Regions from separate parts of the Homo sapiens genome. Here region 1 is linked to region 2. Evidence: fine-mapped QTL for protein levels in blood plasma. A gene starts in region 2. The other region holds a variant in brackets. All regions are shown on one strand. Distances are between the middles of the regions.

Region 1 (8,338 bases), 22 kb before region 2:
CACCTGTAATCCCAGCTACTTGGGAGGCTGAGGCAGGATAATCGCTTGAACCCGGGAAGGCAGAGGTTGCAGTGAGCAGAGATGGTGCCACCGCACTCCAGCCTGGGTGACAAGAACAAAACTCTGTCTCAAAAAAAAAAAAAATCCCCTATAAGGTTGTTGTCTGGTTTAGAGCTAATATATGCATGAAATATGTAGCACAGAATAGAGCACGTAGGAGGTACTGCCAAAAGGTGGATGTTATTATTATTGGTCCTCCTGGAGTTTGCATTTCCAGTTGAGCTCTCTTACAACACAGCCTCGTGATGGGTTTCTGGTCCATTTAATATGATAGATACTTCCTGAGCACTTACTTCCATGCCTGGCTTGCCCTGGGCTGAGAGACTGAGATAGATGGCACAGGAACTTACCCTCAGAAAGTTTCTTATCAGGAAAATAAGGATGCAGCATGTGAAAGAGAAACATAAAATGGCATAAAATATGGCATTAAATTAAAAAAAAATTAAAAGCCAGAAGCCATGGCTGAGTTAACAGTCACAGCCACAGCTGAAGGAGCAAACATTAAGGACTCCATGCCACTTAAATGCCAAGGCCACTTCTGTGTCCCAGTTAGCTGTGGAATTGTCCTTCATCTGTGTCAGAACCACTCTCTTCCCCTCAGCATTTGACTTGCTTGTTTCTTGACATCTCTTCCCTGGTCTCTCATTTTCTCCATTATTTGAGTTGTTTTTTTTTTCTTTGAGACAGAGTCTTGCTCTGTCACCCAGGCTGGAATGCAGTGGTGCCATCTCAGCTCACTCAACCTCCACCTCTCAGGTTCAAGTGATCGTCCCACCTCAGCCTCCCTAGTAGTTGAGACTACAGGTGAGCACCACCATGCCCAGTTAATTTTTGTATTTTTAGTAGAGGTGGGGCTCCACCATGTTGGCCAGGCTGGTCTCGAACTCCTGACCTCAGGTGATCCACACACCTCGGCCTCCCAAAGTGCTGGGATTACAGGCGTGAGCCACTGCACCCGGCCCCCACTATTTGTGTGTTTCTAAAACAAATGCACAGACTCATTATCTTTAGCACACAGAGCCTGCTTTCAGTTTTGTTCCTTAGCTTTTCTTTTGCTCACTGGAGATATTTTATATCAGAATAAACTATCTGAAACTGCCTTTTACGTAGGTCAAAGACAAGCAGATATGAACAATGGATTCAAACCAGATCGATCCTGTGGACCCTGAAAATATTCCATAAACCCTGTTAGATGGGGAAAGTAGGCATTGAGGTAAGGGGTGAGGATTCTGAAACGTGCCATCCTGCTTTATGCAAGAAAAAACAATTTAAATAAATTCCTGGAAGATTTTCTGGAGAAATAAATTCCTTGAGGTATACCTCTGTCCACTTGTCCTTACTCAATTTTCATTGGAAGATTCTGGTACCATTTAGCACCCAGGTATTCCCAAGGATCCTTAAGAATGCTTTCCTCGGGCCGGGCATGGTGGCTCATGCCTGTAATCCCAGCACTTTGGGAGGCCGAGGCGGGCGGATCACCTGAGGTCGGGAGTTCCAGACCAGCCTGATCAACATGGAGAAACCCCATCTCTACTAAAAATACAAAATTAGCCGGTCGTGGTGGCGCATGCCTATAATCCCAGCTACTCGGAAGGCCGAGGCAGGAGAATCGCTTGAACCCAGGAGGCGGAGGTTGCAGTGATGCAGTGAGCTGAGATCGTGACATTGCACTCCAGCCTAGGCAACAAGAGTGAAACTCCGTTTCAAAAAAAAAGGAATGCTTTCCTCTTGGTTGGTGGTTGGGTGGGTGGCTCACATCTGTAATCCCAACACTTTGGGAGGCCAAGGTGGGAAGATTGCTTGAGCTCAGGAATTCGAGATCAGCCTGGTCAACATGACGAAACCCCGTATCTACAAAAAAAAAAAAAAAAAAATACAAAAATTAGCCAGGCATGGTGATACGTGCCTGTAGTCCCAGCTACTCAGGAAGCTGAGGTTGGAAGATCATTTGAGCCAGGGAGGCGGAGGTTGCAGTGAGCTGAGATGGCACCTCTGCACTCCAGCCTGGGGGACAGAGTGACACCCTGACTCAGGGGAAAAAAAAAAAAAACTTTCCAACCGGGAGCAGTGGCTCATGCCTGTAATCTCAGCTCTTTGGGAGGCTGAGGTGGGCAGATCACTTGAGGTCAGGAGTTTGATTTGAGACCAGCTTGGCCAACATGGTGAAACCTCTTCTCTACTAAAAAAAAATATAAAAATTAGCTGGACTTGGTGGCATGCGCCTGTAGTCCCAGCTACTCAGGAGCCTGAGCCAGGAGAATCACTTGAACCCAGGAGGCGGAGGTTGCAGCGAGCCTAGATTGAGTCGCTGTACTCCAGCCTGGGTGACAGAGCAAGACTCTGTCTCAAAAAAAAAAAAAAAAAAAAAAAAATTTCCTCTCAGAGAAGTATTCAGAATGTAGCCTCTTTCCTTGTCTCCAACCTGAGATTGCAACTTCTGGAAGAATCAGAGGGGCCTGGGACAGACACTACCTTAAATGGTTTCAGCTATTCTTTCCGGGTTTTTCTGGGGCTAGAATCACGACAGAAATTCTTGAGAACCGCTTTTTTTTTTTTCTAATTAGAAACAAAAGCAGTCATAAATTACTAGGATTCAAAGGAGGGAATTCTTTGTTTTTTTCTAACCAGTCACTTAATCCCTTGGTAGCCTTAGAGCTATCATTCATGGAAGACCCAGTGATCAGCACCTCCCTTCAGGCCTATTGTGCACCTCTCTATGCAAACTGGAAAGCACTGAGCCCGTGTAGCCTGGATTGTGAGCCTTAAACTTGTTGCTTTGCAAATTTAATGTCTTGCTTTTGCAGACACTAAATTTCAGTGATTATATGAAAGATGACCTAAGTCGTGATAAAAATCTTGGTTACATCAGCCTTTGAATGAGAAACAGTAGAGCTCAGAAGACATATCTTTGCAGTAGCTTTCCATGCAGGTTTTCTGGATATACATATGGATGTGTTGTCAAGGTGACCTTCACGTTCCACAGTGTCTCTTTCACCTTTGCTGCTATTTGCCTAGGCTATCAAGGTATCTAGGGTTATCTTTGCTCTGGGCTGAAGACAGCCTCTTCATTCTCATGTAGAGAATGTGGGGGAGGTCCTCTGTGCAGTACTTTTGGTTATAACTTGATCCTATTTGCCAAGTAACAAGGTAAAAAATTTTGCTCCAAGATCGTGAGTTTGCCATATCCATCTATGTGTGTTCTTTGGTTGGGCACTCATAAAGGAGATCTGTTGGGAAAATTAAAATGAGGTTAGTAGGGGAGTGCAACCTGGGCCCTGCAACCTTGCACAACAGCCATTCTACACTTTTCCAAGGTCACCCTCTAATTTGTACAAAGCCATCTACCTCTGTAATGATTGATTTAAGGGAGCTTCAACCTTTGTTCTTTAGATTCAGTAGCTTAAAGGGAAAGTCAGCTTCTTTTTCTTTTGGAGCCAGCTATCAGGCCCTAATGTCATTGAGAGACAACCAGGACCTAATATCTCATTCTGTTCTCTCCTCCAGTTTAATGTGGCAGCATTTTTTGATGCCCCTGGAAGTCCAGACTCAGATAAATTCTGTGGATGATAGGAAACAAATAAGATAGTAGGCACAACTTTAGAAATAGATGAAGAAGGGATTAGGAGCCAGAGGAAGACATGACAGGACACTGTTGGAAAGATGGGTTGAAGACAGATGAGCAAGCCAAACACATCACACCAGTGTATTCAAGGAACCCTCAGTCATTTGTCAAAAGTTCCATTTCCAAATCTGTGCATGAGTTTGGTCACATTTTGGCTGAAATATGTTCATGTGTACTATAAAAGTGTCTGTTGTTTAAGCTATTTAATAGACTATTAAATAACAATGGTTAAAGAAAGTTTATTTAAAAACTCCACAAGCATAACAAAATAGGTTTATATTTCTGTGTTCCCACCCAGGCTTTCCAAACATATTTCCCAGCTAAAATCACTTTAAGACCGGGTGCCATGGCTCATGCCTGTAATCCCAGCACTTTGGGAGGTGGAGGTGGGTGGGATCACCTGAGATCAGGAGTTTGAGACCAGCCTGGCCAACATGGTGGGACCCTGTCTCTACTAAAAATACAAAAATTAGCCGGTCATGGTGGCGGGCACCTGTAGTCCCAGCTACTCGGGAGGCTGAGGCAGGAGAATGGCTTGAACCCTGGGAGGCAGAGGTTGCAGTGAGCCGAGATCACGCCACTGCGCTTCAGCCTGGGCAACAAGAGCAAAACTCCATCTTGAAATAATTAAACTAATAAATAAATAAAAATTTAAGAAATAAAATCACTTTAAACATCTTCCACGCTGTTTTTGGTTTTCAGAATATCTTAGTATAATAATGATTTACTTAGCTATCTCTGTCTTTTGATAAAAATTTATTTTTCTTCGTTCTTTTGTTCTTTCTCTTTTCCTGTCATAAATGTTTCAATAGCTAACTTTGGGCATATAACCTTTAATTTATTTGAATCATTGCCTTTCATTAATGCCAGGAATGGACTACCTATTTCTTTTCTTTCATTCTTTTTTTTTTTTTTGAGACGTAGTTTCACTCTTGTTGCCTAGGCTGGAGTGCAATGGTGTGATCTCAGCTCACTGCAACCTCCACCTCCTGGGTTGAAGCGATTCTTCTGCCTCAGCCTCCTGAGTAACTGGGATTACAGGCACCCATCACCACACCCAGCTAATTTTTTGTATTTTTAGTAGAGACG[G/A]GGTTTCACCATGTTGGCCAAGCTGGTCTTGAACTCCTGACCTCAGGTGATCCGCCTGCCTTGGCCTCTCAAAATGCTGGGGTTACAGGCGTGAGCCACCCGGCCTGGACTACCTATTTCTAAAATTGTTTTAAATATTCCCAAATCGCTTTCCATACATTTTGTCCACTGGTGTGAGTGTTCTGTGACCATGGGATATAAAACATTGACAGCTCTATTAGGGGATAAATGGCATTTGAGAATGATATAAAGGTGCTACTCATCTACCTGGTACTATACGGGAAATAACATTGGTCTTGAAAGCAGGAGACCTGGGCTCTTGTATTAGCTCTGCTGACTCATCAGCTTTACGATCTTGGACAGATCATTTCACTGTCAAAGACCTGTTTTTCCCTTCATTCTACTGAGCTAAAAATAAACACCCTAGAGAATTTTCGTGAACGTCAAATGAGGCAATAATATCTGTGAAGACCCTGTGAAAATGACACAAACGTAAATTTGAAGTACTTTGAAAGAGCAAGCTGAAAATAATTTAACTTGGTCTAGAAAATCGTAATGGAGACTGTGTGGACGTGAAGAGTGTTCTGCAAATAGCTCCCAAGCCTTTACTTGCCAAGGCTCGTGGCTGAACATGTTTGCCCTCATTTATTGTTTGCAGCTTCCTGAGTTTTACTCGTTGTCCTTTTGGGATTAATTTCAATTTGATTCATCTTTTCATCTGCTTAGCCCTTCTCTATTTTGGTATCAAGTTGATTTTTTTTTTTTTTTTTTTGAGACAGAGTCTCCCTCTGTCACCCAGGCTGGAGTGCAGTGGCTCGGTCTTGGCTCACTGCAGCCTCTGCCTCCTGGGTTAAAGTGATTCTTCTGCCTCAGCCTCCTGAGTAGCTGGGACTACAGGTACCTGCCACCACGCCCAGCTAATTTTTGTATTTTTAGTAGAGACAGGGTTTCACCCTGTTGGCCAGGCTGGTCTTGAACTCCTGACCTCAAGCAATCTGCCTGCCTTGGCCTCCCAAAGTGCTGGGATTACAGGCATGAACCACCGCGTCCGGCCTCAAGCTGATTTTTTAATTTGTTTGTTTTGTAAAGACAACCTCTCACTATGTTGCTCAGGCTGGTATCGAACTCCTGGCCTCAAGCAATCCGCCAGCCTAAGTCTCTGTCTCTGTGCCAGCCTACTATCAACTTTTATGTTAATTACCAAATGCTGCTCTTCCAGATTGTTTAACATTCATTCATTCATCCATGCTGCAGTCTACAAATATTTATTGGATGCTGTGGCTCACATCTGTACTCTCAGCACTTTGGGAGGCTGAGGTGGGAGGATCACTTGAGGCCAGGAGTTCAAGACCAGACTGGGCAATATAGTGAGACTCTCTTTCTCTACTAAAAATTAAGAAAATGAGCCAGGCATGGTGGCATGCCTGTAGTCCCAGCTACTCAGGAGGATTAGATGGAAGGATTGCTTGAGCACAGGAGGTCAAGGCTGCAATGAGCTATGATCATGCCACTGCACTCCAGCCCAGGCAACAGAGCAAGACCCCGTCTCTTAAAAAAAAAAAAATTATTGGATGCTTAAGGTATGTGACCTTTACTGTTCATTGCTAAAAAATTATAAAATTATGTGACAATTATTTCTTTAATTATATTATGTGACTATTTTTTTAAAAAGTTTTTGGCAATCTTGAAACTCTTTTGCAATCATTATTTTACCTTTGCTTTTCTTAGGAAAGAATTTAAATATTAACAAAAGTTACAGCCTTTCATAAAGAAAATATTCACCATCCTATTTTTAATGGTCCAAATTTCATGGCCCTTTTTTTTTTTTTTTTTTTTTTTTTAGATAGGAGTCTTGCTCTGTCACCCAGCTGGAGTGTAGTGGCGCGATCTCAGTTCATTGCAACCTTCTTCTCCCTGGTTCAAGCCATTCTTCTGCCTCAGCCTCCTGAGTAGCTGGGACTATAAGCATGCACCACCACACCTGGCTAATTTTTTTTTTTTTTGAGATGGAGTCTCGCTCTGTCGCCTAGGCTGGAGACCAGTGTCACAATCTCGGCTCACTGCAACATCCACCTCCCAGGTTCACGCCATTCTCCTGCCTCAGCCTCCTGAGTAGCTGGGACTACAGGTGCCCGACACCACGCCTGGCTGATTTTCTGTATTTTTATTAGAGATGGTGTTTCACCATGTTAGCCAGGATGGTCTCAATCTCCTGACATAGTGATCCGCCCGCCTCGGCCTCCCAAAGTGCTGGGATTACAGGTGTGAGCCAAGCGCCCGGCCTAGTTTTTGTGTTTTTAGTAGAGACGGGGTTTCACCATGTTGGCCAGGCTGGTCTCAAGCTCCTGACCTCAAGTAATCCGCCCGCCTCAGCCTCCCAAAGTGCTGACATTACAGGCATGAGCCACTGCGCCTGGCCCAAATTCATGTTTTCTATAGTTGAAATAACTCAGTATTACATTTTAATGAATTTCTCCCTATTCTTTTTCAATCATTATATTTTCAAATTTTCTGGCCAGATGTGGTGGCTCATGCCTATAATCCTGGCACTTTGGGAGGCCAAGGAGGATGGATTGCTTGAGCCCAGGAGTTTTAAGACCAGCCTGGGCAACATGGCAAAACTCTATCTCTACAAAAAATACAAAAATTAGCTGGGCATGGTGGCATGTGCCTGTAGTCCCAGCTACTCAAGAGGCTGAGGTGGGAGGATCACTTGAGTCCAGCAGGTCAAGGCTGTAGTGAGCTGTGTTTGAGCTGTGTTCACACCACTGCACTCCAGCCCGGGTGACAGAGCAAGGCCTTGTCTTAAAAAAAAATTATTCTAACAAATTATTGATTATTCTCAGTTTGTATTGTCTCAGAATTTTCCTGAAGGAATGTAAAAACTAAACTCTAGCATATTTGTTCCTTTAAAACAAATGTCCTGTTAAAGAATTCTGATTTCAATGATAATATTACTAAATTAGACTAGTGGCTGAGCCAGAATCTATACCTGGCAACACAAAAGGAAAAAAGTCTAGAATAAAGTTCATAATTTGATTAAATGAAGCATCTAGTTTCCCTCTATTAGAAATTGGAAGAAATCAGCATTAGTAAATTAGTGCTTTAGTGAAGTTCTCTTTGCCGGAGGAGAGCATTTGCATGCCATCTTTGTAGAGGGTGTAATGATATTTAAGGCTTTTTGTTAGTGATCCTGATAGTAATTTTTTCATGCAAAAGGACTATATCTCATGGTATAACTGAAGCTAAAATGGTCTGGGTTGGTGACTTGAAGCCTTTCCTCAGGATTTGGGAATACAGATAGTCAACATATAAACCACCATGGAGGCCTGGCACAGTAGCTCTCACCTGTAATCCCAGCACTTTGGGAGGCCGAGGCGGGTGGATCACTTGAGGTCAGGAATTCGAGAACAGCCTGGCCAACATGGTGAAACCCCATCTCTATTAAAAATACAAAAATTAGCCAGGCGTGGTGGCACATGCCTGTAGTCCCAGCTACCAGGGAGGCTGAAACAGAATCGCTTGAACCCGGGATGCAAAGGTTGCAGTGAGCCGAGATAGCGCCAC
Region 2 (8,338 bases):
AATACATCCTCATTCTATTTCAAATGCTGTTAAAAACAGCTTTGACGGGAGACTGAGGCAGGAGAATGGCGTGAACCTGGGAGGCGGAGCTTGCAGTGAGCCGAGATAGCGCCACTGCACTCCAGCCTGGGCGACAGAGCAAGACTCCGTCTCAAAAAAAAAAAAAAAAAAAATCAAAACAAAACAAAACAAAACAAAAAAAACCTTAGTTTTGAGGCCGGGCGCTGTGGGTCGGGAGTTCCAGACCAGCCTGACCAACATGGAGAAACCCCGTCTCTACTAAAAGTACAAAAAATTACCCAGGCGTGGTGGCACTTGCCTGTAATCCCAGCGACTCGGGAGGCTGAGGCTCCCGCTTGAACCCGGGAGGCGGAGGTTGCAGTGAGCCAAGATTGTGCCACTGCACTCCAGGCTGGGCAACAAGAACGAAAACTCCGTCTCAAAACAAAACAAAACAAAAACAAAAACTTAGAGTTGGTTCATCCATTAGTAGGTGTGATTATGGAAAATTTTTACCTGAGTCTTAGACCCGCATTAAGGTACTCCCTACATCTGCAATAAAGTGGAATCTAAATTGCAAGTCAGCCTTGGGACCCTCTGGACCATTCAGGTTTCCTCCAAATGGGAACATTTCAAACCGAGATGGAGTTTTCCAGATCATTCTGGAACGAAAAGGACCCCAATAGCCACTATGAAACCTTTTCTCTATCTGAGAAGTGGGGAATGAAGGGGTCCATACCCCCCCAGAATTCAGTTTTATATTAGGCTTGTGTAGCTCAATAAATGTTTTCGGTCTAAAAACTATTCCTAAAGAATGCTTCTTCTGGGTCACAAGGGGGCAGGAGAAGGAAGAAATACTTCATTGCAACGTAAAATATCAAATTAATGTTTTCTACGTGAAAGTCAAGACAGCGAGGGGACAAGTGGGAAAAACAAGTTCACCTCAGGCTACCAAATCATTGCAAGATTTCTTTAGTGCTATACGTCACTGGGTCATGCAGTGTATTTCACTTTCTGACTGATTTCAAGGACCCCTCACACCATTTATTTAGTCTAGTGATTTAGAACTTTTAAGGCAATACAAACATTATTTGGAAAACACAATAGTTGAAAAACATATCCCTCCATTTAAAATAATAAAATTTATCTCACGATCATAAAGTGCTAATTTTGTGTTAAAGGCAGAGAATATCTCAAATTAGAGGAAAATGAAAACATCTGAAAATATGTCATTTTATCAACTATGTTTGGAAGCAATATCTGTTAAAGCTTTTTGCCTGTTTATTCTTATCAGCCAATTTTAAGGCTTTAATCCTTAAAATACATTTTCATGAAAACTCTAATTGTTGACATTTTTCCAGGTAATGACTTTTCAACAATTTAGAATATTTTTCTTTATACAAAGGTTAAATAAACATATTCATGCATGTATTTGCATAGAAAACTTTAAAAAGAATGTATAAGAAACTATTAACAGTAGCGTCCTTGGCCTGGGATTGTCAGGTGAAGAGAGGGAGAGGGATTTAACTTTTTCACTTTAGATCCTTTGGTACAATGTGATATTTTTATTTTTTATTTATTATTTTTTTGAGACAGAGTTTCACTCTCGCCCAGGCTGGAGTGCAGTGGCGTGATCTCGGCTCACTGTAACCTCTGCCTCCCGGGTTCAAGGGATTCTCCTGCCTCAGCCTCCCGAGTAACTGGGACTATAGGCACGTGCCACGACGCCCAGTTAATTTTTGTGTTTTCAGTAGAGAGGGTTTCACTATGTTGGCGAGGCTGGTCTCAAACTCCTGATCTTGTGATCCACCTGCCTTGGCCTCCCAAAGTGCTGGGATTACAGGCATGAGGCACTGTGCCCGGCCCAATCTGATATTTTTAAATGTACATGAGCATGAATTGTTTTAAAAATTAAAAGGACTGGCTGAGCGCAGTGGCTCACACCTGTAATCCCAGCACTTTGGGAGGCTGAGGCAGGTGGATCATGAGGTCAGGAGTTGGAGACCAGCCTGGCCAACATAGTGAAACCCCTCTCTACTAAAAACACAAAAATTAACTGGGCTGGTGGCATGTGCCTGTAGTACCAGTTACTCAAGAGGCTGAGGCAGGAGAATTGCTTGAACCTGGGAGGTGGAGATTGCAGTGAGCCAAGACTGCGCCATTGCACTCCAGCCTGGGTGACAGAGTGAGACTTTGTCTCAAAAAAAAAAAAAAAGAAAATTAAAAGGACTAAATGAGAGGAATATTTTTCTAACTTTTGTATGCATAATCTTGATAACTGTTAAATACCTATACAATTTCTACCCTTTAAGGTCTTATTTTGTCAAATCACAGTATACCCACACATTAATATGTTCTATATACAACTCTAGTCAAAGATATGCAAATGACCTTGAAATCATAATGCAATCTGTTTACCTCAAGGGCAGATGTATCTGAAACCATAGTACAATGCACATGTGTAATAATCCAGAAAAGTTCAAAAAGAAAAGAAGTGATAGCAGATATTTTTGTATGTACAAATTTAGACATGGAATTATTTTATGTTGCTGTATTTTTTTTCTACTTCTGTATATTTAGCTTTTGATTATTAATAATTAAATTACTTTTTGTAGCACATTATAAAATTATATTGATAAAGTTTTTTCATTTTTAAAATGTAACAGGTGTGCAGAATAATTTATTTTTCCTAAGTAAACTATTTGACTCAAAAAGTTAAATTCGATTCTAGATATTAGCCTCAATGTGAGGCTAAATCTCTTGCAAATTCCTGAGTCTTCTTTTCAAAGCATTCTTAATGAAGACAGTTAGTGTTAATTATGTTGTCATTTAAAAAATCCATGTCCACAACAGCTGTATTTTACTCCTTAACCTTGGGAAAATTATTTAATCTCATTAAGCTTCAGTTTCCTCATCTTTTAAATGGGAAGAATAATAAAACTAGTTCAAAAGGCTGTTAAGAGGATCAACTGTAACGATGCATGTAAAATACTTAATGTAGTCTGTGGTACATAATAAGTACTCAGTAATTATTACCTATTATTTTGCTTGTATTTTCACTATTGTTTTACTAATTTTAACATTTCTCAACATTATCTCTAGCTTTTGAAATATATTGCTTGAAAATTGCTTTAGTAGAGCACATTCTTCCCAGTTCTTATGGGAAGAAATGTGTTTAGCTCCCATAACAATTAATCTTCTCTTTTTTGCTATGTAACACAAATAAAATCAAAAGTGAAGTATATTTAAATTTCTGTATTTAATATGCATGAGTTAGCTAACATTTATTTGGCTTACTTATTTACTTACTTTATTTACTTATTAGCTAAGTTAGCTATACTTAACAACAAATACATATTTGAAATGGTTGTGCCTTAAGATAATTCTGAAATGATTGCATGTTGTCAGAAAAGGGTTCCAACAATTAAATTTATGAAGCACTGTTTTCCCACAGAATGAAAGTAAGCTCATATATTCACACTGTAGTGTATAATGGTAGATTTAAAAATAGCCTCAAAGTGCAACTTTTGAAAAAACTAATTGGATTAATACATTAAAAATACCTTAGATAAATAAAACATACACTAACTTAAATGCAAAATTTGAGGATAGATCTTTTGAATTAGCTTAAAATCAGTTGCCTTGATTTCAGTGAAGAGAATTACTGAGGCAGAAGGTAAATTCTTAAATTCTTAGTGTTTTCTGAAGCTATAAGAAGAAGCTAGCTGTACAGTACCTTGATCAAGTTGTGTCCCACAGTGTAGACAGCTGCTAAATTTCCCTTCTCTCCAGGGGCATGCATACCTGTCCCATACCCATGCCAAGCCACTAGATATGGGTTGTGAATTGTAATCCAATATTTGACACGGTCCCCAAACATCTGGAAACAGTATGTGGCATAGTCATTGAAGATATCTATTATGGTATCATTTTTCCACCCCCCATATTTTTCTTGTAGTGCCAAAGGCAAATCCCAGTGGTATAAAGTAACTATAGGTTCAATGTTTCTAAGCACTAGAGCGTCCAGAAGAGTACTGTAGTACTGCAGACCTTTTGCGTTGGCAACTGTTACTATTCCATCGGGGAAAAGCCTTGGCCAGGAAATTGAAAATTGATAAAAAGAAACTCCTATAAAATCCAGGGCTGATAAGTCTTTTTCCAGAAAAATATAACTGTCACTGGAACCATTCGTGCTGCTGACATTTTTAAGGTGTGTGTGGATGAAATGATCCCATATAGAAGGTCCTTTTCCATCCTTCTTCCAACTCCCTTCCACTTGCAATGCTCCAGTCCCAATACCCCAGAAAAAGTTTTTAGGGAAAGTGTCATAGAGAAACAGCTGACTTTCATTTACCGGAGTAAAATTAGGATTTTTAGACCATATAGCTCTTCCATCTCCAGAGAATCCAGTAACAGCTCGTAGCAGAATAAGTGCTGACAGGATGACAGATCTTTGCAATCCCCCGTTGGACATTGTATTCCTATAGCGTGTGGTTATTTCATCAGTGCTGAAGAAAATCCATTCATTCCCTGGAGATCCTGCCGCACAGCCTGGCTTCATTTGCCACCAACTGCTGGACTGTCTTATCAAAGCTTCAGTAAAAGCTTGTGATTGTAAAGCTCTGTCAATGATTAGCTTGAACTGGGAGACTGAGGATGGGTCATAGAGAGCAACGTAATTTGAGGGAGGTGGCCCTATTGCAGTCACCAACGCGTCTCCTTCTCTCTCATTATGGAAAAAATTAGATGAAAATGCATCGGTGACAAGAGTTTGAATGTGTAACTAACACATATGTAAACACTGGATTAAAATCACATTATTTTCCGTGTAGCCTTTCATATTGACCCAAATCTTTTCTGAATGTTTTGAACATTATTGAATAAGGTATATAGCTTTTCTATTTTTAGAGTTTTTGTGTGGTAATTTTATAATCTCATATATCAAGAAAAATAACATATACAAGTATATAGCATTCCTACATACCAATAGTAAAGAATTAGAAAACACAATAAGAAATTACACTTCTCCACAAAATTATAACGCATCTAAGAACAATCTTAATAAATGTTACCTATTTTAGGAAAATTGCAAAAATGTATTGGTAGATTTGAGAGAAGACTTGAATGAGAAAATATAGCACTTTGTGGATGGAAAAATGAAATACTTTTCAATTTAATACATTTAACTTAACTAAAATCCTCTAATCTCTAATTTTATTTTTTATTTTATTTATTTAACTTAACTAAAATTCTCTAATCTCTAATTTTTTAATTAATTAATTAATTTTTAATAAGAGTCTTGCTTTGTAGCCTAGGCTGGAGTGCAGTGGTGTCATCACAGCTCACCGCAGCCTCAACTTCCCAGGCTTAAGCAATCCTCCCTCCTCAGCCTCCAAGTAGCTGGGACAACAGGCACATGCCACCATGCCCAGCTGATTTTTGATTTTTTGGTAGAGGTGGGGTCTAGCTATGTCCCCCAGGCTGGTCCTGAACTCCTGGGCTCAAACAGCCCTTCTGCCTCGGCCTCCTAAAGTGCTTGGGATTATAGGTGTGAGCCACCATGCCTGGCCTAATCCCAAATTTTAGTTCAAGAAAATTATTACGAAAGGCCAGGCACAGTGATTCATGGCTATAATCCCACCACTTTGGGAGGCCAAGGCAGGCAGATCACTTGGGGTCAGGAGTTTGAGACCAGCCTAGCCAACATGTTGAAACCCCGTCTCTATTAAAAATACAATTAGCTGGGCACGGTGGTGGGCACCTGTAATCCCAGCTACCTGGGAGGCTGAGGCAGGAGAATCTCTTGAACCTGGGACGTGGAGGTTGTAGTGAGCTGAGATCGCACCACCGCACTCCAGCCTGGGCAACAGAGCAAGACTCGGTCTCAAAATAAAAAAAAAAAAAAAAAGAGAAAATTATTATGAAAGTTCCCTTGAAGAATAGGCAATATTTATTTTTAAAAAGGAAAGAAAAACCTGAAAAAGAAAATAGCAAAGGCATAGACTACCTTCAGCATGATTCTGGAATAAAGATAAACATACAGAAAGAAATACATGCACATACAGAAAGAAATATTGTACCAAATCGATAGCCTCCAAATAACCTGTAAAAAATTTAATGTTTTACAGCCTGGGGAACATAATAAGGCCCCATCTCTACAAAAAAAATTAAAAACTAACCGGGTGTGGTTGTGCATGCCTGTAGTCCCAGCACTTTAGAAGGCCAAGGTGGGAGGATTGCTTTGAGCCCAAGAGGTCAAGACTGTAGTGAGCCATGATTGCACCACTGCACTCCAGCCTGGGTGACAGAATGAGACTCTGTCTCAAAAAATAATAAATAAATAAATAAATAAATGTTTTAAATATTTGAAGTATCACATATGAATGAGAAGCAGAGTGGTTAATAGTTTGGTCTCTGTGCCAGATGAGGTGGCTCACACCTATAATCCCAGCTACTTAGGAGGCTAAGTGGGGAGGACTGCTTGAGGCCAGGAGTTTTGAGACCAGCCTGGGCAATATAGTGAGACTATCCTCACCTCTAAAAAAAGATGATTGAGGCCCGGCACAGTGGTTCGCACCTGTAATCCCAGCACTTTGGGAGTCCGAGGCGGCTGGATCACCTGAGATCAGGAGTTCGAGACCAGCCTGACCAACATGGTGAAACCCCATCTCTACTAAAAATACAAAATTAGCTGGGCATGGTGGCACATGCCTGTAATCCCAGTTACTCGGGAGGCTGAGGCAGAAGAATTGCCTGATCCCGGGAGGTGGAGGTTGCAGTGAGCCGAGATCGCGCCATTGCACTCCAGCCTAGGCAACAAGAGCAAAACTCTGTCTAAAAAAAAAAAAAAAAAAAAAAAAAAAAAAAAAAAAAAAAGAGAGATTGAGCCTCTAGAGGCAGACTGCCTGAGTTTAAATATAGCTGTGTAACTTGCCCTCAGTTTCCTCTTTAAGAAAAGGCATAATAATAATATGCACTTCATGGATTATTGTGAGAATTAAACGAGTTAATACACTGAACCAAATGGTTTTCTCTGGAATATAGAAACGAATGAGCCAGTACATGTAAGGCACTTGGAACAGAGACTGACACATAGTAAGTTATGTGCTAATATTATTTTTGTGTGAAAGGGAAAGATTATTCAGGACATGATGCCAGGATTTAGCATAAAAGACAATTTGTTCTGGCTCCTGCCCACATTTTTAGCTTCACTTCTCTCAGTTGACTAAGGGGTACACAGCCTGCTAACTTGTAGCCCTGTACCTTGGTATGTGTGCTCTCTGCACAGAGTATGTTTCTCCCTTCATCTAGCTCATGTCTATCTTTTTTTTTTTTTTTTTTTGAGACGGAGTCTCACTCTGTCTGCCAGGCTGGAGTGCAGTGGCGGGATCTCGGCTCACTGCAAGCTCCGCCTCCCAGGTTCACTCCATTCTCCTGCCTCAGCCTCCTGAGTAGCTGGGACTACCGGCGCCCGCCACCACGCCTGGCTAGTTTTTTGTATTTTTAGTAGAGACGGGGTTTCACCGTGTTAGCCAGGATGGTCTCGATCTCCTAACCTCGTGATCCGACCGTCTCGGCCTCCCAAAGTGCTGGGATTACAGGCGTGAGCCACAGCGCCCGGCCGTCTTTTTTTTTTTTTTTTTTTTTTTAACTTTTAAGTTCAGGGACACGTGCAAGTTTGTTACATACGTAAACTTGTGTTATGGGTGTTTGCTGTATGGATTATTTCAGCAGGCAGGTATTAAGCCTAGTACTCATTAGTTTTTTTTTCCTGATCCTCTCCTTCTTCCGACCCTCCACCCTCTGATAGGCCCCAGTGTGTTATTTCCCTCTATGTGTCCAGGTGTTCTCATCATTTAGCTCCCACTTATAAGTGAGAACCTGCGGTATTTGGTCTTCTGTTCCTGCATTAGTAAGGCCTTTCTGACTCCCTATGACTCCCTAGCCTGATTGGATTTAGATGGATCTTCTGTTTTCCCATGGCAGCCCATGTTTTCTCTATTATGACACACAATAAATCAGCTAACCACACAATAAATGTATCTGTATCCTCTGTTTGAGTGTAAGTTTTCTCTCTCTCTCTCTGTTTCTCTCTCTCTCTCTCTTTTTTAAAAACCAAAACAGGGACCATGATTGGTTCCCTGTTGATTGTCTGTGGCCCAGCATGGTACTTGACATATAGCAGTCACTAAAGTATTTACTGAATGAATGAGAGTATCTATAGTAGGCTGGGCATGAGGGCCCACACCTGTAATCCCTGCACTTTGGGAGGCTGAGGCAGGAGGATCGCTTGAGTTCAGGTGTTCAAGACTAGCCTGGGCAACATAGTGAGAATTCA

Alleles and levels. Positions count from the first base shown, and alleles are read on the strand shown. Strength reflects both the effect of a copy and how common the allele is.
With allele A in place of G in region 1, the plasma level of the protein whose gene starts at base 4,581 in region 2 is lower (moderate association).

What was found. PIP is the chance, under the fine-mapping model, that this variant and not a neighbour inherited with it causes the effect. Protein levels are from antibody-based Olink assays in UK Biobank. Linkage for the fine-mapping came from a reference panel and not from the study's own genotypes, which makes the PIPs less certain.
Region 1: its variant is fine-mapped to the plasma level of the KLB protein (UK Biobank, PIP 0.99).

Annotation. Positions count from the first base shown.
Region 1 is chr4:39,424,688-39,433,025 of GRCh38, reverse strand. All of the region lies in intron 1 of KLB (klotho beta), which reads right to left. Among named protein-coding and RNA genes, the nearest start is that of MIR5591, 17 kb to the right of the region's middle. The variant G/A (reference allele first, on the strand shown) is at 4,772.
Region 2 is chr4:39,403,173-39,411,510 of GRCh38, reverse strand. KLB (klotho beta) reads right to left here and starts at 4,581. Exons shown (of 5, transcript NM_175737.4): 1 at 3,737-4,581. The coding sequence starts at 4,561.